Homo sapiens: one gene and its partners. The protein of the gene in region 1 purifies or fractionates together with the protein of each later gene. This does not show direct contact. Each region holds a gene or a part of one and is shown on either strand. Other genes may lie near its edges.

What was found.
Region 2: the proteins of STAU1 (region 1) and RPL4 purify together in Homo sapiens (affinity purification with mass spectrometry; 3 studies listed by BioGRID and IntAct, with this or other methods). This does not show direct contact.
Region 3: the proteins of STAU1 (region 1) and YBX1 purify together in Homo sapiens (affinity purification with mass spectrometry; 3 studies listed by BioGRID and IntAct, with this or other methods). This does not show direct contact.
Region 4: the proteins of STAU1 (region 1) and FMR1 purify together in Homo sapiens (affinity purification with western blotting; 3 studies listed by BioGRID and IntAct, with this or other methods). This does not show direct contact.
Region 5: the proteins of STAU1 (region 1) and LRRC59 purify together in Homo sapiens (affinity purification with mass spectrometry; 3 studies listed by BioGRID). This does not show direct contact.
Region 6: the proteins of STAU1 (region 1) and FTSJ3 purify together in Homo sapiens (affinity purification with mass spectrometry; 3 studies listed by BioGRID and IntAct, with this or other methods). This does not show direct contact.
Region 7: the proteins of STAU1 (region 1) and ZNF512 purify together in Homo sapiens (affinity purification with mass spectrometry; 3 studies listed by BioGRID and IntAct, with this or other methods). This does not show direct contact.

What each region holds. Positions count from the first base shown.
Region 1 is NC_000020.11:49,153,835-49,157,334, forward strand, and holds part of STAU1 (double-stranded RNA-binding protein Staufen homolog 1), read right to left. Parts: intron 238-3,500; coding exon 99-237; intron 1-98. UniProt on the Homo sapiens protein: Binds double-stranded RNA (regardless of the sequence) and tubulin.
Region 2 is NC_000015.10:66,499,686-66,501,855, forward strand, and holds part of RPL4 (large ribosomal subunit protein uL4), read right to left. Parts: coding exon 2,103-2,170; intron 1,820-2,102; coding exon 1,690-1,819; intron 1,634-1,689; exon of another isoform or gene 1,567-1,633; intron 1,421-1,566; coding exon 1,264-1,420; intron 692-1,263; coding exon 608-691; intron 492-607; coding exon 371-491; intron 1-370. UniProt on the Homo sapiens protein: Component of the large ribosomal subunit. The ribosome is a large ribonucleoprotein complex responsible for the synthesis of proteins in the cell.
Region 3 is NC_000001.11:42,692,418-42,695,917, forward strand, and holds part of YBX1 (Y-box-binding protein 1), read left to right. Parts: intron 1-1,072; coding exon 1,073-1,106; intron 1,107-3,500. UniProt on the Homo sapiens protein: DNA- and RNA-binding protein involved in various processes, such as translational repression, RNA stabilization, mRNA splicing, DNA repair and transcription regulation.
Region 4 is NC_000023.11:147,946,419-147,949,918, reverse strand, and holds part of FMR1 (fragile X messenger ribonucleoprotein 1), read right to left. Parts: intron 1,237-3,500; coding exon 1,075-1,236; 3' UTR 1-1,074.
Region 5 is NC_000017.11:50,391,024-50,394,523, forward strand, and holds part of LRRC59 (leucine-rich repeat-containing protein 59), read right to left. Parts: intron 1,875-3,500; coding exon 1,716-1,874; intron 1,480-1,715; coding exon 1,375-1,479; intron 1-1,374.
Region 6 is NC_000017.11:63,821,799-63,824,663, reverse strand, and holds part of FTSJ3 (pre-rRNA 2'-O-ribose RNA methyltransferase FTSJ3), read left to right. Parts: coding exon 1-27; intron 28-252; coding exon 253-333; intron 334-424; coding exon 425-580; intron 581-711; coding exon 712-847; intron 848-1,901; coding exon of another isoform or gene 1,902-1,991; exon of another isoform or gene 1,992-2,075; intron 2,076-2,495; coding exon 2,496-2,680; intron 2,681-2,820; coding exon 2,821-2,865.
Region 7 is NC_000002.12:27,603,542-27,607,041, reverse strand, and holds part of ZNF512 (zinc finger protein 512), read right to left. Parts: intron 1-3,500. UniProt on the Homo sapiens protein: May be involved in transcriptional regulation.

The DNA of each region.
Region 1 (3,500 bases):
TCATTACTCCCTCCACAATCTAGAGGTACTGGTTTATGTAAAAGATCAGACACGTTTTCTCCTGTATTTTACAAAAAAAAAAAAAAAAAAACACATACCTCGGGGGATAAGCACCTCCTCTCATGTTGTAGTTATAGGTGGACTGCATCCGAGAGTAAGGGTCAACAGGCTTATACATTGGTTTTTTTCCAAGTTTCATGCACAGTGCATTTAGTTCTACAGTAGGGGTTATGCTTTCTGCAAGAAAGAATCGACAAAGAACTGTTTTTTTCTGGTATGAGAATGATACTCACTAAAATAAAATGTAATAGCATGCTTTCTGCTAATTGGATTCATGATACTTTACATAAAAGGACCTGGGTGGCTCACTGCTAGGCATCAGACAAGGAAATCCAAGAATATGCTGTGATTTCTAGATATTTATACACAGTCGACAGCACAAAATCTACTCTGAGGGTTACCAGAGGAGCCACAATTTAACCCAAGACATTATCAGTGAAAGCTATATGGTACAGCTGTCAGAAATAAGTTCCAAAACACATCAAATTTCACGATTAAAAAATCCCATGTAAATGTCCAAATTGTTTTACTGTTTGAGAATACTTAATCAATATAACCTTGGTTGTACTGATTTACAGGATTATTGGCTTGCACTCAGAAGTATGTCCGTACACAGTATTGAACGATGCATTTATTACATTACTAACTGGATGCAAAGCACTGTGCTAAGCTTAAGAAACACAATTCCTGGCCAGGCGTGGTGGCTCACGCCTGTAATCCCAGCACTTTGGGAGGCCAAGGCAGGAGGATCACAAGGTCAGGGTATCGAGACCATCTTGGCTAACATGGTGAAACCCTATCTCTACTAAAAAATACAAAAAATTAGCCAGGCATGGTGGCGGGTGCCTGCAGTCCCAGCTACTCAGGAGGCTGAGGCAGAAGAATGGTGTGAACCTGGGAGGCGGACCTTGCAGTGAGGGTGGCTCACACCTGTAATCCCAGCACTTTGGAAGGCCGAGGCGGGTGGATCACCTGAGGTCAGGAGTTCGAGACCAGCCTGGCTAACACGGTGAAACCCCGTTTCTACTAAAAATACAAAAAATTAGCCAGGCATGGTGGCGCATGCCTGTAATCCCATCTACTCAGGAGGCTGAGGCAGGAGAATCGCCTGAACCCAGGAAGCAGAGGTTGCAGTGAGTCGAGATTGCGTCACTGTACTCCAGATGAGGAAACAAGAGCAAAACTCTGTCTTAAAAAAAAAAAAGAAACACAATTCCTGCCCCAGAGGAGTTCAAAAAACACAAAGCACACTCAAAGAGTTACAATACAACATGATGTGCAACTTAAAGGTGAAAAATCAGTGAGGAGGTGGCAACCCAATTCTCTTCACAGAAGTCACACAAGGCCCACAAAATATTCAGGTATTTCCATTCTTGACATTTCTAATGAATTTGACCTGTGGTCATACTTGCTACGAAAATGAGTTCCATTTTCATACACAACAAGTTATCTCAAAATTATCAACTTCAGAAAATACATGCTATTCATTTTCCAATTTTTTTTTCTTTCAGTTCATCCAATCCATAAACCTTTAAAAACCATTTAAAAAGAAAACCAGCCTGGAAAGATTAGTGTCAGTGCACAATATTTAAAAACAACACTTTCATATCAAAAACAGAACACTAGAAATGGCAAAATCTAAATGCACATAAAAATCCACTTTAAAATGCCTCTTTAGGATGTATATAGAGAGAAATAAAAAAGACCTGATTCTGTACTATAACTGGTTCAACTAAATTTAATGCATGAATCAAATCTATAAGAATATCTTTGGGGTTTGCACAGAGGGCCACATGAATTACAGATCTCTCTCTTCCTTGCATTAGAATTATATTTTTTACAAAATTCATATAATTGCATTTTAAGTACAGTCTGAATCATTTTAAGAGCAGCTCTGATCCACAGAATTTGTCTGCAATAGAGAATAAACATGAAGAAAGTATACTGCAAAGAAATCAAAAGTAACAAGAAAGATGTGACTGGTAACTTCCCAGATTCCTTCCTACATACGAAGACCTGGGATGACTTCATGCATGTGAGGGGGTCTCTGCTAAAACAGCCATTAATGACACAGCCTCCAGGTCACTGATCCCCAACCCTTCACCAGCCATGCCTTCTTGATTAGTATGCTCCCTGAATGGGCTCCTTGTCTGAGGAGATACTACCTGCTGGCTTGTATTTAAGTAATATTTACATTTTTCTCATTCTTTTTAATAACTAAGAGACATACAACTGGCAATAAGCACTTCTGACCAACAAAATTACAATCAATATTACCACACTGACTTGATGTGACTCTAAATTAAACTTATATTCTTGCTAATCTATACACTCTTATCAAAAATATATTTTCATTAAACTTCGGAAATCTTTGAAATTATCTGGTCACCCGCCATCCTTCCTATGACCGCCTTTCCAGATTGTCAGGCGTTAAGGCATCATAGATTGGAAACCACTGCTTTACAATGAGGTTAAGGATTCCTAAAAAATAAGCATTTGTCACTGGTAGTGTAGAATCTGTGCTTTCAAAATCAACAAGTTAAGAAACCATTCATATACATACTACATGGTACCTCTAGACACACTTTTGAAAGGTACCTGTTTGGCCCATGCATAAGACCTGGATTCCTTCCTTCGCTACCAAAAGGGCTGACTATGGGCTTAGGAAATTTTGTTCCCTCCAAAGCTTTAGCAGCAGCTGTGTGTTTGACCTTTTTAATACCAGTTCACTCAGCTCCCCATTGCTGATTTCCAAGTGTCAGCAGTACTGTAAATTCCTAGAAATGAAAAGTGTGAGCTCTCAAATTCATGAAACCTGACATTGACTGTAATATGTCACTTGAACCTTGAACACTTTCTATGGTCATGGTTTAAGAGGCCTGGTCTTATCTTGATAATTCATCCTGTCATCCCCTTCTTATCCTTTTTTGTTGTTTTTTATAAACAACAACAAAAAAAAGAGATTGTGTGTGTATGCACTGAAATTTTTTTTTTTTTTTAAGAGACACAGTCTCACTCTGTCCCCAGGTTAGAGTGCAGTGGTGTGATCTTGGCTCAATGCAACCTCCACCTCCTGGGTTCAAGAAATTCTCCTGCCTCAGTCTCCCGAGTAGCTGGGATTACAGGCACCTGCCACCATGCCCGGCTAATTTCTGTACTTTTAGTAGAGACAGGGTTTCACCATGTTGGCCAGGCTGGTCTCGAACTCCTGACCTCAAGTGATCCACCTGCCTCAGTCTCCCAAAGTGCTGGGATTACAGGCATGACCCACCACGTCCAGCCTCAAAATTCTCTTCCAATTACTTCTCATGAAAGATATTTTGCAAACTTGATTTAAACACACAGCAGTACTTCACACAAATTAAGACAATGTTTGTTTTGATGCTGCAATGTGTTTGTGGGCTCTTGTTTGAAAACATAACCACCCTTTTTTTCAGTTT
Region 2 (2,170 bases), on another chromosome or scaffold:
AAATCCCTGTAAGAACTTAATGTATCAGGAAGAGAAAAACAAAAACAAAACAAACCAGCCGGGCACGGTGGCTCACGCCTGTAATCCCAGCACTTTGGGAGGCCGAGGCAGGTGAATCACCTGAGGTCAGGAGTTTGAGACCAGCCTAACAATATAGTGACACCCCGTCTCTACTGAAAATACAAAAATTAGCCGGACATGGTGGCGTGCGCCTGTAGTGCCAGCTACTTGGGAGGCTGAGACAGAAGAACTGCTTGAACTTGGTAGGTGGAGGTTGCAGTGAGCTGAGATCACGCCATTGCACTCCAGCCTGGGTGACAGAGCGAGATTCCGACTCAAAAACAAACAAACAAACAAAAACTCCACTCACATTCCTGGCCTGGCGAAGAATGGTGTTCCGGCGCATGGTCTTTGCATATGGGTTTAGCTTCAACATGATTCTCAAGTTTTTCAGTGGGTTCTTCTTTAGGACTCTGCGATGGATCTTCTTGCTATAAAAAAGCAGATACTGTATCAACATTTTACTTAACATTATACACATACAAATTTTTGAAACAACCAATAGTATAGGGTTGGGGCGAGAATTACACTCTAAGTATCACTTTACCGTGGTGCTCGAAGGGCTCTTTGGATCTCTGGGCTTTTCAAGATTCTGCTAAGATCTGTATTAATCATCTTGTGCATGGGAAGACTGAAAGGGAAAAGATTGACATGTACATGTAAAAGTAATCAACCAAAGAACAGGAAGCTCAACTGAAGCTTTATTTTTAGCCACTATGCTCTCCAAAATATCTACTACACTATCACTTCTCATAAACATGGACCAGGCCGGGTGTGGTGGCTCACCCCTATAATCCCAGCACTTGGGGAGGCCGAGGCGGGTGGATCACCTAAGGTCAGGAGTTCCAGACCAGCCTGGCCAACATGGTAAAACCCCAACTCTACAATTAGCCGGGTGTGGTGGCACAAGCCTGTAGTCCCAGGTACTTGGGAGGCTGAGACAGGAGAACTGCTTGAACCCGGGAGGCGGAGGCTGCAGTAAGCCACGATCACACCACTACACTCCAGCGTGGGTGAGACAGAACAACTCTGTCTCAAAAACAAAACAAAAAACCAAAAATATAGACCAGGTGAGTCTCATTTTGGCATACTGTTGCTGCACATAAGGGGAAATGGGAATAAATTTAGAAAACATGTAAGCCAATTCTGAATGTTAATATCCACAATATAAACATCTGTGCTTAGTATATGAAAGATACTTACTTGTAGTTACTCTTGAGGGAAGCGGCTTTACGCCAAGTGCCGTACAATTCATCTAACTTCCGGAAAGCACTTTCAGTCCAAATGCAGAAACGTCCCACATGCCCACCAGGAGCAAGCTTCAAAATGTTCAGCTTGCTTACATTAAGCAGAGTAATTCCTTTTAAAGGGAAAGAAAAATTAGGGAGCCTGTATTCCAACAAAAGAAACACAAATCATCTTTATGGCTTAAGAGCTATAAAAGGTACCTGAGAACTTATTAATTATGAAGTTTCAACCATCAATGGTGCAACTCTTTCAGCCATAAATCAGAACTTCCACAAAATCATTTGTTTCAGAAACACGGACCTTAAGTGGAATCTCATCATAACAAAAGCTGAGTAGACTTGCAGAGTATACCTAGTCAATATATGTAAGCAGTTTAATTACCAGGGATGTTTCTGAAGGCCTTGATGATACCATTATCCTCATTATAGATGATGCACGGGCCCCTGCGCTGGATACGGCGACGGTTTCTCATTTTGCCTTTGCCAGCTCTCATTCGCTGAGAGGCATAGACCTACAAAGTGAGCAGTTTTAGTATTCTGATTAAGATAGAATCTCTGCAATAGATCTTCAGAGTTTTAATTCCTTTTTACAGATGATTAAACTGGGCACAATAACTTGCCAAGGTTACACAGAGCCATAAACAGCAGTTAGGATTCAAACCCAAGTAATCGGGCTCTGAGGTTCTTGTTCTCTCACACATTAAGGATTAGCTATACTGCCCTTATCTTCTGAAATTCAAAGTGACAAACTGTGAACAAGGAGTACCAAACTGTAAATGTGCTCATTGAACGGACCTTTTTGATATCATTCCAGGCTTTAAGTTTCTTAAGGAGCAAAACAGCTTCCTTGGTCTTCTTGTAGC
Region 3 (3,500 bases), on another chromosome or scaffold:
CCTTAAGTCGCTTTTACAGTTTACCTGTTCTGTTTTTTTAATTATCCTGTTCCCATCAATTAAAAATGTTCTTATAATAATCCAAGCTATAATTTACAGGTCAGATTTAAAGTTAATTTTATGTGGATCCTTTGATGCATATGTTGCCCCCAGTTCAGCAAGAAGCTAACAGTCAGTAAGCCAGTTTGTCCAGTTCATTGTAACCTTTGTTCCCTTTGTCATTAAACGCTAGAGCTACTACTGAGCTTTTTCTCACTCTGACCTGACGGAGTAAAGAGGGTGAGGCAGGCCACTGCAGGCCTGGAAATCCGTTTCCTTCTCCAGTGGTGATTCTTGCTCCTCGTGTTATCACCTTAATCCCAATATCCAGGCTAAAAAGTGAGATTATTCTCTACCCCCTCGCTTCTGACATCCAGTCATCCACAAAGTTTCTCATTTTGCCTCAAAAAGAGATCTCAAATGTCTTTTTATACATGGCTCCGTGGTCTAAACCTTCATCAGTCCTTGTCTGGACTTGTGGAGTAGCTTTTATAACTGGGCTTTTCTTACATTCAAACATACCTTATCACCCAAAGGTCACAGTTCCCATTAGGTTTCACTCTTTGCGTTATACATTCTGTTGGTGGGGAGGGGGGTTCTCATTTTTATGATCTCAAGGAAAGTTGGTAGTTGGGAGATGCAGGATAAGGTGAGAATGTAACTACTACTTCTGTTGGTAACCATGCTCTAGAGGTAAGAGGAGGGTGTGCTAGAACAGTTAATGTTTAATAGGATAAGGAGGGGCAGAATATATTTTGCTAGTCATTGCTACCCTCTTAATTATGGCTCAGTAGGTCACACTTTAATTTCTTAGACTTTTTTTTTTTTTTGCCTATCTTACGGGTAATGAGGCTACAACTGTTTGCAACTGCTGAAGTCTTGAAAGCAGAGAGCATGGTGGCTTGTGTTTTTTGATTTTTGCCAAATTTCCTGGTACCTAATTGGCAGCCAGAGAGTCTCTGGGAAAATTAATCTTTGACAACATGAGATTTATTTCATTTTCTAACTTGTTCAACTTGGTTCTGTCTTGCAGGAATGACACCAAGGAAGATGTATTTGTACACCAGGTGAGTGCTTGTGTAGATATTTGCACTTCTGATTCAAGGATTGTAAGAAGAAAAGGTTAGATATGTTCTCAGCTTTTGTTCCTTATAAAAGGTTAAGTCCAACCACCAGTTTATTTACTTACGACAGGAGTAGTAGCATGCTTAAAAATGTATACGTGGAAATGTGTTAGAGTTGACTTAATTATCCTAGACATTTCAAATTGGAATTTTGTCAACAGCTGTGGCTTTCTCAAATGTTGAGTCAAACTCACTGCATTAAATATTTATACCTAATTTCAGATGAACAGATTATTCCATGATTCTAAAGTTGAACAAATAATGTTGCTATAAATACACAGAAACTTTGGCAAGAAGTTTTCAAAGGCTTTTAGGTGTACCTGTAGGGACAAATCTCCATAATCAAGGGTAAATAAGACAGACCTGCAAAACATAGTAATTGAAGTGAGTACTTGAAAAGTAGCATAAAGAGCCTTCTGCTTACTTTAAATCACTTTGAATGGGTATTGGGTTTTTTTTTTTTTTAAACCTTTGGAGAGTTTTGGCTGGCTTGGAAAATGAAAAAATTTCACTAGTTTAAGGTTAAGTGGGGGGAAGTGTGACAAGGTTGGCAGCTGCTCATTAAATAATTTTTAGATTGGCTTCCAGTGATTTGGGAAGAGAAAACTGTTAACATAGGATGAGTACTGATGAGTACTGCATAGTGAACTTTCTCCCTAAGTATCATTTAGGGAAAATGTTTGCACATTCAGGAATTAAGATTATTACTAATGTAAACCACTGCCAAGTGTATGTTAATACTTCAAATTTAGATATGCTGTAGGCTACATTGAATGTACTTATCCTCACAGATACGAAATGAGTAGGAAAAAATATGTTTGTGCTATCAGTTTTCTCACTAAGGCTTTTGAAATATTGTCAACTTGTATTAAAATTAGAGACCATAACTACTTTTTTGTACTATAATCCAGAAATCAAAAGACCTAAAAGTTAATATCCATACTCACATTTAATTAGATACTAGCTTTTATGGCAGCATGTTTCATAGGAAGGGCTGTCATAGGTTGGTGCTTTGTAGCTCACTGAAGTGTCCTACACAGTATTTGATGACAAGGAGGAAGCTATATCAATTTCTAGTACACCCAAACCCAATCAGGTAGTTCAGGGTCAAATGTAATTATGGAATCATTTAAATTCTAAATGTAAATAAATACAGGACTACTTCAGACAAAATGTTGTTTTAAAGTAGATGTTTTATAAAATTGGTATTCTTGTTTGGAAGAACACAGCTCAACTGTTCCTTACTCCCCTTCTGCATGTTCAAAAGAATGTGTAGACTTAGGAACAAGAGACAGCAAAGTTTCTCGGTCTTGTTGCCTGTTGGCAACCCTTAAGGGTTGGGGTTGGGGCAGGGGTGGAGATGTTGATAAAAATAAAGAGTTGGGATTTTAATTATCCATAATTCTGCTATCCCCTATGACTGCAGGTAATTGATAGTTGGCTATATCTGAAAGGTATGAAAACTATGTGACAGTTTAGATGACAGATGAGATCAATTATTTGACTCAACTCACCCAGTTGTACTGATTCACAAGGTGCCACCAATATGCTTTCATTTTTTTGGAAGTGGTTTCAACATGTAGTTGTTTCTTGGGACTTTGGCTGCTCAGGTCTTAGTGGTGTATCAGGGAGACTGCAGTTCTGGGCAGCTTCACTTAATTGGCCTCAGATTCGTTGATTGTCCTGTCTCCTCTGCAATGGAAATGCATGAGTGATCCTGTAATGGATATAGCTGAGATTTGGAGTGAACATGGGATTTGGAGACCCAATACCTGGGTTTAGAAAGTCTCCTTACTAACTGTGTGACCTTGGGCAAGTCACCTAACTTTAAAGCCTGTTACATTATCTGTGTAATGGGATTAACAATACTTTCACATGTCCTGTCTCATAATGAGATTGAATAGATAGTAAGTGAAAGAATGTTGCAAAAAAATTTCATAGAAACGTGAGATGTTACTCTTCCTCCCTTCTCTTAACAGTCTGGAGAAAGTAGAAGCAACAAGTCTCTAATACAAGATTTATTGAATTCTGGGGAGGTGATAACTAACAATTCCATGCAGTCAGATCATATAAAGAATGACATAGTTAATACACATGAATTGCATTTCCACTGATGTATTATCAGATTGGAAGGGATTTTGGTTGACATTTGTAATTGAGTTTGATACGGTAACACAGGGGCAAAGTTGGTTTGGTCAGCTTTGAAGCATGCAAAACCAAACTCGCCTGTCATCTAAACTGACGCAGTGTGGGGCCACCTTCTCCTATTAAGTGCAGTCCTCAGGGGATAGATGGATATCCTCATTTGTTAAAAGTTATATATAATGCTTTTGCAAA
Region 4 (3,500 bases), on another chromosome or scaffold:
AGACAAAGTACCTGTACTTTGCAGGATTATTATGCATACATGGAAATGACCTTCCTATCTCTCCAAAATAAGCTTGAAATTAAAATATGAAAAATTTCACAAAACTTGGGGCAGACAAAATTAAAAAAAAAAAGCTCTAAGTTAAAATTGGTCATCAGGCCAAAGAGCAGGCATATCCTACTAACTTTCGACCAGGAAGATTTGTTCCTAGCTGAAAACATTTTAGCCTCTCTCAGATGAAGATAGTTCTTTCTTCTCCTGTCTATACAGAAAAATTACACATCTCTCTCAATAACACTATTTATCAAACTTCAGTGCAACAAAACAAAAACAAAAACAAGTCCTATTCTTTATACTGCCTAACCTGATGTTTATGTAAGGAAAAAAATATGGAAAGCATGCATTCTTCTATAAAGTACTAATGTTTGACAGGGTTTGCTACATCTTTAACATTTAGTGTTTCCAACTTATCTTCCCTGAACTCTGCATCCAAATATAATATTCCTACCTGCCAAGATATAAAAAAGGCACAGATCATACAACTTTTTTTGCTAATGAAAATGACAAATGTCACATCACACACATTTCAGGGTCCACTAAAATACTGGAAAAGTGGACCAAAACATAAACTGACACAGGACATGAAATGACATAGCATTTCATGAAGACTTCTATACGAGATTGAAAACAGAAGTCTAATATGATTACCATAAATGCTATATATTAAGAAAAACTGAGAATGTACTGGTGAATGATCACCCAATGCAGGAAAATGGTCCAAATTAACAAAGAATATCACTGCTCAGTACTTTAGAAAATAAAACTAAAATCTGCCCTGAAGTGCTAAGTAGTTTTAAAAGCAATGTTTCAAATTTTAAGGTATCTTTTTGTGCAAATCTGAAAATTGTTGCTTATGGCCAATACCAAAAAATAAAAAATTCTTAGCATAATTTGTGTTCATTTCATGCCCTGTGCCATCTTGCCTACTATTTGTCTTTGGCCTAACAAAGTTTTCTAATATGGAATAAGAATTACGGAAATGGTATAGGAAATATAACTTCAGAATTATGCAGTTTAGGGTACTCCATTCACGAGTGGTTGCTGACCATCCACGCTGTCTGGCTTCTCTTTCTTCTGGTTACGATCTTTACCCGTGCGCAGCCGACTACCTTCACTGGAGGTATTCTGTAATGTTTTAGTGTGGACACTCCTTTCATTATTGCAGTCAACTCTGATCTAAAACAAGTTATAGTTGTTATATACACAGACCATATCCTACTGTAATCTGTAATTGGCCTGACAAGAAATTTAAACCTGAAGTGTAAATTCCACATGTTAAAAAGAGAAATGGAGATGAGAACAGAAGAAGTGCAAGAAATTAATGTAAGGTAGGATTCTTTATTTGGTTTATGATTTTAAAACACTCTTCTTCTTTAACTGGAACACACTGGTCATCTCACTGCATCCAAAGTTAGAGAAAAACTCACAATCCTATCATGTCTTCTTCTAAGTAGAATAAAACAGTGAGAAACAAACAGGTAAAATGAATTACTATTACTGATTACCAGAAGACATACATGCCTCTAACACTAGAGTTAAAATAAAATTAGTTATTCTCCAAAGATTGTGAAGCCCAGGAAAAGAGAAACAAAATGTTTTCCTATTCTGGCTTTACCCTCAAATAACTCACTAACTAGACTTTAATTTACATCTTTATATCTATCACAGGTATGATCAAGTTTCTCTATACTGAGAGCTCCCATAGTCATACAGTAGAAAAACACGAGCTTTGGTTTCTACTGGCTTGTATTTCACTAAGAAAATTCAGATGATCCTACAACCTGAACTCTGTCTGAAGAATGGAACAGTATAAAGAAAACTGCATATAATAATTTGTGGAAGGACTGGAATCCTAGGAGAGTATAAAGATCAATGTAATTTAAAAAATAGTGTTCTAAGAGCTATAAAATATTTTAAGTGCCAATGCTGAATACAGCACTGCTAATTCCAGAGGTACAAATGAAAGTTAACAGTGACAAATGGAACTAAAACAACTACAAATATTGATCTACTTCAAGCACAAATGCTAAAAACATCCCCAAATGGTTGTAATTTCAAAGTATGTTTAAGTAGTGGGTATGTGCATGTGTTTTAAATGTCTCGTTACCAAGGATTCAGTACTTTGATTTGTATCTTTTTTTTTTTTTTTCCCAGACAGTCTCGCTCTGTCGCCCAGGCTGGAGTGCAGTGGCGCGATCTTGGCTCACTGCAAGCTCCGCCTCCCAGGTTCACGCCATCCTCCTGCCTCAGCCTCCTGAGTAGCTGGGACTATAGGTGCCCGCCACCATGCCCGGCTAATTTTTTGTATTTTTAGTAGAGATGGGGTTTCACCATGTTAGCCAGGATGGTCTCGATCTCCTGACCTTGTGATCCACCCGCCTTGGCCTCCCAAAGTGCTGGGATTACAGGCGTGCGCCACCGTGCCTGGCCCTTTTTTTTTTTTTTTGAGATGGTGTTTTGCTCTTGTTGCTCAGGCTGGAGTGCAATGGCAAGATCTTGGCTCACTGCAACCTCTGCCACCTGGGTTCAAGCGATTCTCCTGCCTCAGCCTCCCGAGTAGCTGAGATTACAGGTGCCCGCCAACACGTCTGGCTAATTTTTTGTATTTTTAGTAGAAATGGGGTTTCACCATGTTAGCCAGGCTGGTCTCGAACTCCTGACCTCAGGTGATCTGACCACCTTGGCCTCCCAAAGCGCTGGGACTACAGGCGTGAGCACCGCGCCTGGCCAGATTTGTATCTATTTTCATACTTAATAGAGAAAACATCACCTTTTAAATTCAGTATTCCATTTCATTTAGAAATATAAATGTGCATCCTTTTAACCAATGCAGTTAGACTGCCAAGTTCATCAAACATATCAGTTTAAGTGGAAAATTACAAAACGGGTACTTAAATATCTTATAGCTTTGTAAAAGACAGGTACATACAGTAATTTACCAATCTATCTATCCCTTGGACATGCTGGTCCTTAAGAACCCACCAATAGTTAACACTTACTTTGAGCTGCTATGAATTCCAAGAAATATTCCATCATAAACTTTGTCTTAAAAAGTATCTCTCACTAATCTTGGGTGATGGTCCCAAATGAATCCATAGTCAGGAAGGAACCCTAACTACTTAATAATTAAAAGTTACAGAAAAAGTAGACGACAACATAGATTCAGAGAATCAGACACTAAGGTTTGACTATCATTTGGACATATGCTAGCTATGTGACTGTGGGCAAAGGACTGAAGCTACAGTGCACTCACCTATAAAGTGGAATAATAAAACTACCTCAGTGGGTTGCTGTAAGATTAAATGAGATAAAACATACACAAAGCACTTAGCAAAGGTGCCTGGATGTGCTCAGGAGATAATTTTAAAATTATTTAACAATTGGTTTAGCACTGGTGACAGCCAATTGAGAAGAGATCCTCGGACTAGGTCCTGGCTGTA
Region 5 (3,500 bases), on another chromosome or scaffold:
ATGAAAGGTGTGTATATGCTGAGGGTTTCTTGTGTCAGAGAAATGAAAGTAATGCCGACTCCTCAGGGCTCTGAGGATTGTGAGATGGTGCATGGAAAGCATCCAGGACAAGGAAAGAGTAATCAATGGTAGCTACTGTCAGCTTGCAGAACAGACATCACTCCTACAGCACCTAGTTTTCAAAAGAGGATTTCACTGATCACTTATACTGTTCTCATCTAAGGGAAAACTCTTGTCTTAGCTACTTGGTTAACTTTGTGCTTGATTTGTTGTAATAAGAGATGATACAGATGACAAGATTATATAAGAAGCCCTGAGCTAATGATAAGAAGTATCTTACTCTCTTACTCTCTACTTGAGACAGCAGAGACTCATCATTCACCCATGAATTCTAGTATTTAAAGTTAAGTCTTTTTTGTTCAACATGCACCTTAAACATAGCCAAGTTAGTCATCTGGTGCTCAGCTGAAGCAGCAGCAATCTGTTCCAAAGCTGGAGGGAAAAAGTGACTATAGTTGGAGTTATTAAGAGATAGGTGTAATGCTGTTCTTAATAGGTAGGGTACGGCACCTTCCAGGCTACTGACCACAGACAATAGTTGTCTTGCATGCTGCTTTCAGTTCCTCACTCCTATGTCAGATGACTCAACTGTAATCAAATACCAGGTCTGCCCAGGACGTGCCTGCTTACAGCTGTAACACCTTTATCATCGCTTTTATTATCAACATTCCTACGACTGTGCCTCAGAAAGGCCACAGCCCCTAACCCCCGGTACTATTAAAACAACTGTCCACACAGTGTCATGTTGCATCACGCAAGGTCCCGGCTCCTTAAGAGAGGAAGTACTGCAGTAGAGAAGGCAGTCTTGTTCTGCGACTTGCGAACTAAGTGCAGGCCAGGCATGGTGGCTCACGCCTATAATCCCAGCACTTTGGAAGGCCAAGGTGGGCGAATCATTTGAGGTCGGGAGTTGGAGACCAGCCTGGCCAACGTGGCGAAACACCATCTCCACTAAAAAATACAAAAATTAGCTGAGCATGGTAGCAGGCGTCTGTAATCTCAGCTACTCGGGAGGCTGAGGCAGGAGAATCGCTTGAACCTGGGAGGCGGAGGTTGGAGTGGGCCGAGATTGTGCCACTTGCACTCCAACCTGGGCAACAGAGCAACTCTGTCTCAAAACAAATAAAAAACAAAAAGATAAAGTAAATGCAGAAACAAAGGTCTCTGTTTGACAGGCTCATAGTGGACATATTTCACTCGGACCTGAATGCTTAACTCCACACAAAGCTCCAGGTGCCCTAGGAGGGAAAAACAGGAGGAGGAGAAATCCCAGGGAGTGTATAAGGAGCCACTGGGAGGGAGCTTGGTGCTTACCTTGTTTGCACACTGCTTACACTGCTTCTCATCCAAGCAGTCACCTGCCACCTTGGCCAGGACAGGATCCAGGGGGTTATCCTTCAGGTCCAACCACTTCAGGTTCTAAAGAGATGGGCGATGGGCAAAGAGGCTCATTAAGCCCGAGTTCACATACATAGTCCCTCAGGGTGAAACAAAATGAGCAGGAAGAATGCCCCTCTGTGTTCCACATATAGGGAGCGCCATCTGAGGCAGGACCAACAAGGGGGTATTTCTGTCAGCCTTTCTCAGGGCCGTGCTCCAGAGTCCCTGAGTTCTCTGCCACCCTGGCCATGAAACACTGGTTCATGAATTGTTACCTTGAGCTGAGCAAAGCTGACAGGCAAGGTGACCAGCTTGTTGTTGAGGAGATCCAGGTGCTGGAGGTTGACCAGACGGCCAAAGTCTGCTGGCAGCTGCTGCAGCTTGTTCTTACTCAGGTCTAGCTTCACCAGGTGTGTGAGGCCACAGAAATCCGACTAGGATCCAAAGAGAGAACCTAAGCTAGGCTTGTCCAACACACGAGCCACGACAGCTTTAAATGTGGCCCAATACAAATTTGTAACCTTTCTTAAAACATTACGAGATTTTTTTTCCTTTTTCAGCTCATCAGTGTATTTCATGTGTAGCCCAAGACAACTCTTCTTCTTCCAATGTGGCCCAGGGAAGCCACAAGATTGGAAACTCCTCATCTAAGCCTTGGGCTCACACACTTCGGTGTAACAGTCTGGAAGCCCTCAAGTCAGAGGTACCCCATGTAAAAATCCTGGCTCTACTGTTAGCAGCCGTTCTTCCTCAAATGAAAATGCAGAGAACACCTACCACACCTGGTGATAATTACCAAGATATGTATGGAAAAGGGCTTAGCACAAAGTAGGCACAAAACACTATTCCTTCACCCTCAGTTCTTGCTCCAGCCTACCCTCCACACTGCTCCTGGAGAGGTGTGGTTACCCATTCTGTCCTTCCACAGCACCCTATGCTCACCATTCATAGGATCTGTCAAAACAGCGTGCTCGTTCATTTTCTTAAAAAGATCAGGCACTCCTGGAGTACTCAGTCTGATTCTTGTTATTTGCAGCACCTAGCACAGTACTTAACACAGGTGCTCAACAGACATTCTGTGAATAACTAACTGAACGGGCTGGGGTCCATCCTACCCAAGTCCTGGCTCTTTCTCAACACAGGTCAAAACATCCCCCTGACATTAAACCTTTGCTAAGCACCCATCTGAAAGCGATGGTACAACCTCAGCTAATGAGGCACTATTCATGCTCTCTAGGGACTTGGAAATGCCAGTGGATCTGAAATGCAGAGTGAAATGGAAGTTGTCAGTACAGACAACAGAACAAGCTCAGATCGAAAAGTGCACTTGGCTGAATGACCATCTGGCAAAGTGTACAGAAGGAGTGCGGCTGCAAGGAATTGCTAACCTGCTTTTATTTTTAATTTTTTAGAGGCGGGATCTTGCTATGTTGTCCAGGCTGCTCTCAAACTCCTGGGCTAAGTGATTCTCCCACCTCAGCCTCCTGAGTTACTGGGATTATAGGCATGAACCACAGCTCCCAACATATTCTTCTTTTATTCAACACAAAATACTTTCTGGAAGAAGTGAGATCTCGATGCTTTTTGAATGTTAGAAACAGTTTTTGATGAGCTGTGACAAGGTACTGTGGACGATGAGCAAGGCCTAGGAGAATACTGAGAGGTGAGTGGACTAATAATCCAATGAGGACATTGCCAACTTCTGAATTCGACCTCTGAGCCACAGCCAGGGCCAAATAGGAAGTCACCCTGGAGTACAGCAAGGAGTGGCACGGCTAGAGTGATGGGTGGAAGTGGCAATAGCACACTTAGGCCTGACGGTGCAGGAGCACTACTATGTCAGAGAGGCTGAGGGGCTGAATGAATCCACTGTCTACACAGGTGGAGTGGAAGGAAAACTAGCAGACGTTGTGCAAGAAAAATAAAAAGGATTTGATCATGGATTGAATGTGCTGACCACATTGAGCAAATCTCAACTAATTCAAGTCCTTTGGGAGAATAATGATAAGGTAGCCCATAAAATCACCTTCTTTCTTGCTCCCCATCAAAAGATGCACAAG
Region 6 (2,865 bases), on another chromosome or scaffold:
CAGAGTGTTGGGGCGCAAGGAGCTCAGGTATGGAGTGGGGTAGGCACGGGGGCCAGGAGCCCTGGAGGCAGGGAAAGGCCATGATGTTGGACCTCTGGGAAGAGGATATTGCTGTGCTAAAGGTTTGGGATGGGGGCCTGAGCCTTTTGATTTATGTAGCCGAAGCCCGAAAGGTGGGTAGTGAGCCTAAAACAGAAGGGGGCGGGGACAAAGAGGGAGATGGCAAGATCAGTAATAGTATCTCTGGGGCAGGTCGCTACTAAACTGGAGAACAAAACTTCGGCGATATGTGGCCAAGAAGCTGAAAGAACAAGCAAAGGCACTGGACATCAGGTGAGGAGAGAACGCAGCGAGGCAGGTGTGGACTGGGTGTCCAGGGGAAAAGTCTGGGAAAATAACCCAACTCTTGGGACTGTTTTGCCAGCCTCAGCTCTGGAGAGGAAGATGAAGGTGATGAGGAGGACTCAACAGCTGGAACCACAAAGCAGCCCTCTAAGGAGGAGGAGGAAGAGGAGGAGGAGGAACAACTGAACCAGACCTTGGCAGAAATGAAGGCCCAGGAGGTGGCGGAATTGAAGAGGTGAAAGGAGCTGGGGTAGAGCTTGGAGTTCCCCAACGCAGGGACTGTGTGAAGATGGGAGAAGAAAATGCAAGGCATGGATAGAAACTTTGGAGCTGGGCCGGTTTTACTCCCTCAATCCACCCCCTCAGGAAGAAAAAGAAGCTGTTGCGTGAGCAGAGAAAGCAGCGGGAGCGTGTGGAGCTGAAGATGGATCTGCCTGGGGTTTCCATTGCAGACGAGGGGGAGACTGGCATGTTCTCCTTGAGCACCATCCGGGGTCACCAGGTGAGGCGGCATTGGGGGTGCAGGTTTAGGAGACAGAAGGATCTGTTTGGGTGTTTGGAGGTGGGGGGTGTTGAATGTCTTTTTAGGTTGCCGAACGATAGGCTGTGGTTGCTGTCTTCACCACAGGGTGCCTTGGTGAGTATAAGGCCACAAAGAAACATAAACCAAAAAGGATGAGTTAGGTAGATAGATGAGTGTGATAGATTTATTTTTTTTTTTTTTGAGACGGAGTCTTGCTCTGTTGCCCAGGCTGGAGTGCAGTGGCACGATCTCGGCCCACTGCAAGCTCCACCTTCCAGGTTCACACCATTCTCCTGCCTCAGCCTCCCGAGTAGCTGGGACAACAGGCGCCTACCACCACGCCTGGCTAATTTTTTGTATTTTTAGTAGAGACGGGGTTTCACCGTGTTAGCCAGGATGGTCTCGACCTCCTGACCTCGTGATCTGCCCACCTCGGCCTCCCAAAGTGCTGGGATTACAGGCGTGAGCCACCGCGCCCGGCTGATAGATTTATTCTTGAAGAACTAGAACATCAGAAAAGAACTTAGGTTATAGTAGATGCTGCCAGGTTACTTGAGTTTCAAGCACAGATGAATAGAGGATCTCCCTCAGAGGGGAGCAGCATTCTTTAGTTCATTGAGACCAAGTGAGCACTCGCATTAGGGTACTTCCACTGAATACTGAAGAACATGTTTTTCCTGACAAAATCAGGGTCACAAACAAAATGAACTTTTGTGGCTTATGTGTGGGAGTGTCATAATCAGGTCATCTTTGTTGTACAGGAGGGCAGTAGAGCATGGTGGCCCTAGAGCAGACACAGGCTCAGGTTTCCTTCCCAGCTCTACCACCTGGAGCTTTGTGAAGTGACTGAGCTGACTACCACTTATCCTTGCTGCCTCAGTTTCCTCATCTGTAAAACAATAATAGAACCTACCTACTAGAGTTTTTGGTGAGGAATAAAAAAAGATAGGTGTAATCCCTCATATGTGATAAACACTCAAGAAATAGTAGTTGGAGTTTTTCCTTTGAGACAAGATCTTGTTTTGTCACCCAGGCTGGAGTTCAGTGGTGCCATCATGACTCACTGCAGCCTCAAACTCCTGGCATCAAGCAATCCTCCTGCCTCAGCCTCCCAAAATGCTGAGATTACAGGTGTGAGCCACCATACCCAGCCTAGTATCTTTACCATGAGGAAAATAAAAGGTTCTGACAATTGGTTTAAGTGGAACAGTTTTGTTGGATGTATGTTGGCTGGGCCCCTTTTATTCAGTGGAAACAAACTGTGTAGACGGTATTCTCAGGAGATGATTGAGATGCTGTCTGAGAATAATTTTTAAAGGAAAACCAGTGTTGTAGAATATGTTAAGATTTGGTGCTATGTGGGCTGTAGGTACCTTCCTTAAGACCTATTTGTGATACCACTGAGACAAGACAGCTGAGTGGGATAGATCAGTAACCCAGCCTAGAACGGGATGTTGTAAACAGGCCATTCACTACCCTGGATCTGAGCTTTCCCATCTGTGAAAGGATAATGGATTTGCCAGTGTTCTTTCTAGTGTTGCTGAGCATAGACTGAGGTGAGGGACACAGAAAAAAAAACAGTATATTTCCTTTTAAATAGTTTACCTTTGTTTCTGTTACACTTCAGTTATTAGAGGAAGTAACACAAGGGGATATGAGTGCAGCAGACACATTTCTGTCCGATCTGCCAAGGGATGATATCTATGTGTCAGATGTTGAGGACGACGGTGATGACACATCTCTGGATAGTGACCTGGATCCAGAGGAGCTGGCAGGAGTCAGGGGACATCAGGGTCTAAGGGACCAAAAGCGGTAAGGGGCACGTGTGCACCAAAGGGAATGCTGCCACTCTGAGGAAGTGTTAGGGTGGGTACTACCAGAGCCTGAGTAGGGCAGCAAGGGCTCCAGGCAATCTGGGTCTCTGAGCCCCCTACTTTCCTTTGGGTCTACAGTATGCGACTTACTGAAGTGCAAGATGATAAAGAGGAGGAGGAGGA
Region 7 (3,500 bases), on another chromosome or scaffold:
GAGAGATTCAAAGCATGAGAGACATCCAACCTGCTGTCTCTGACTTGAAGACAGCCATGAGCCAGGGAATGCAGGTGGCCTTTGGAAAGGGAGAATTCTTAGCCCACAGCAAATAAGGAAAGGAACTCCTGCAACTGCACGGAACTGAATTCTTGAACAATCTGAATGAGTCTAGAAACATGTTCTCTCACTAGAGCCTCTAAAAAAGAACAGCCCTACCGACACAGATTCCAGCCTGGTGAGACTCTAAGCAGAGGAACCAGATGAAGCATCCTGTAACTGGATTTCTGACCTAAAGAACTGTGAGATAATAAATGTGTGTTGTTTTAAGCCATTCAGTTTGTGGTGATTCACAGTAGCAACAGAAAATTATACACTGAGGGCCAGGCACAGTGGCTCATGCCTGTAATCCCAGAACTTTGGGAGGCTGAGGCAGGCGGATAACCTGAGGTCAGGAGTTCAAGACCAGCCTGGCCAACATGGTGAAACCCCATCTCACTAAAAATACAAAAATTAGCCAGGCACGGTGGCGGGCACCTGTAATCCAGCTACTTAGGAGGCTGAGGCAGGAGAATCACTTGAGCCCAGGAGGCGGAGGTTGCAGTGAGCCAAGATCGCACCACTGCACTCCAGCCTGGGCAACAGAGTGAGACTCTGTCTCAAGAAAAAAAAAAAGAAAGAAAATTATACATTGAGTTAAGCAAAGATTTCTTAGATATAAAAAAGCATTATCCATAAATGAAAAAATACATAAACTATATCAAAATTTAAAACTCTGTTCTTCAAAAGACAATGTTAAAAAAAAGATAAAGAACTTGTATCCGGAATGATAAAAAAACCCAGAATATATCCCAAACTTAATAAGACAACAAAAATCTTCCCCTCAAAATGAACAAAGGATTTGAACAGACACTTCATTAAAGACATACAAATCACCATGGTGTAAGCACATGCAAAGATGGTCAACAAGATTAAGCATCGTTAGTCATTAGGGAAATGAAAATTTAAACCACAGTTAAGTACTACTACGTACCTATTAGAATGGATCAAAAAATAAAATTGATAATAATAAATGTAGACAAGGATGCAAAGCAACTGGAGTGCTCATACTTCGCTGGGGGAATGCAAAATGGCACAGCCACTTTAGGAAACAATGCAGCAGTTTCTTATGAAGTTAAATATACATTAATCATATGACCCAGAAATCTCATTCCTAAGTATTTACCCAAGGGAAATTAAAATTTATTTTCACATAAAAACCTTTTTTGCCAGGTGCAGTGGCTCATGCCTGTAATCCCAGCATTCTGGGAGGCCAAAGCAGGCAGATCACTTTAGCCCAGGAGTTCAAGATCAGCCTGGCCAACATGGCGAACACCCATCTCTACTATAAATACAAAAATTAGCTGGGTGAGGTGGCACTCGCCTATAATCCCAGCTACTTGGGAGGCTGAGGTGGGAGGATGGCTTGAGCCCGGGAGGCAGAGGTAGCAGTGAGCCAAGGTGGCGCCACTGCACTCCAGCCTGGGCAAAAGAGCAAGACCCTGTTTCAAAAAAACAAAACACAACAATCTTTTCATTTTTTGTTTTTGAGTCAGGGTCTTGCTCTGTCACCCAGGCTGGAGTGCAGTGGCACCATCTCGGCTCACTGCAATCTCCGCCTCCTGGGCTCAAACCATCCTCCCGCCTCAACCTCCCAAGTAGCTGGGACTACAGGCGTGCACCACCCACACCCAGCTAATTTTTGTATTTTCTGTAGAGATGGGGTTTCACCATGTTGCCCAGCTGGTCTCGAACTCCTGAGCTCAAGCAATCCACCTGCATCAGCCTCCCAAAGTGCTGGGATTACAGGCATGAGTCATTGTGCCCAGCCCAAAAACCTTTGTGAATGTTTATAGCAGCTTTATTCGTAATCATCAAAAACTAGAAACAACCAAATGTTCTTCAACTGGTAAGCAGATAAACGACAAACTTGAAACATCCATATAATGAAATCCTAGTCAGAAAAAAAAAGGAATAAACTAATGATACATGCAACACATGGATGAATCACAAATGGATTATGGTAAATGAAAGAAGTCAGACTGAAAGGCTACATGCTGTATGATTCAATTTATATGACATTCTGAAAAGGGTAAAACTATAGGGTCAGAAAATAAATCAGTGGTTGCCAGAGGCTGTAGCTGGAGGAAAAGGCTGACTAAAGGGACACAAGTCAACTTGAGGTAGTGATGGAATTGTAAAACATCTTTTTTTTGTTTGTTTTGAGACAGAGTCTCACTCTGTCACCCAGGCTGGAATGCAGTGGTATGATCACAGCTCTGCAGCCTCAACCTTCTGGGCTCAAGTGATCCTCCCACCTCAGTTTCCCAAGTACTTGGGACTACAGGTGTACACCACCATGCCTGGCTTATTTTTTCATTTTTTGTAGAGACAGGGTCTCACTATGTAGCCCAACCTAGTCTCAAACTCCTGGACTCAGGCAATCCACCCACCTCAGCTTCCCAAAGTGCTGGGATTACAGGTGTGAGCTAAGGCACCCCGCCTAGTCTATGTGTTGAGTGTGATAGTGGTTACATGACTGTATACATGTGTCAAAACTCTTATAATTATGCACTAAAATGGTAAACATTACTATGTGTAAATTGTATCTTAACAAATGACTCTAAAAAAAAAGAAACCACAGGGTGGGAAACCTTGGAAATGTAATGAGAACAAAAAAATTTAAACCAAAAAAATGAGAGGAACCAGCTGGACAGATGCCCATAAAAGCTCTAGCTATGGGGGAATGCCTTTAGTTTTAAAAGTATAACAATGGGGCTGGGCACAGTGGCTCACGCCTATAATCCCAGCACTTTGGGAGGCCGAGGTGGGCAGATCACCTGAGATCGGGAGTTCGAGACCAGCCTGGCCAACATGGTGAAACCCCGTCTCTAATAAAAATACAAAAATTAGCTGGGCGTGGTGGCACGCACCTGTAATCCCAGCTACTCGGGAAGCTGAAGTAGGAGAATTGCTTGAACCCAGGAGGCGGAGGTCACAGTGAGCCAAGATTGCTCTACAGCACTCCAGCCTGGGCAACAGAGGGAAAGTCTGTCTCAAAAATATATAAATACATAAATTAATTAATTAATTAATTAAATAATGGGCTGAGCAGGGTGGCTCGCACCTATAATCCCAGCACTTTGGGAGGTCAAGGTAAGAGGATCACTTGAGGCCAGGAGTTTGCGACTGGCCTGTGCTACATAATGAGACCCCCGTCTCTACAAAAAATTAAAAACGAAGAATTAGCTGGGCATGTGACGCAAGCCTGTAGTCCTGGCTACTTAGGAGCCTGAGGCAAGAAGATGGCTTGAGCCCAAGAGTTCGAGGCTGCAGTGAGCTATGATCCCACCACTGCACTCTAGCCTGAGACAGCAAGATCTTGTCTCTTGAAGAAAAAAAAAAAAAAAAATATACACACACACACACTATATAAAAATATATAAGATATAAAATATATA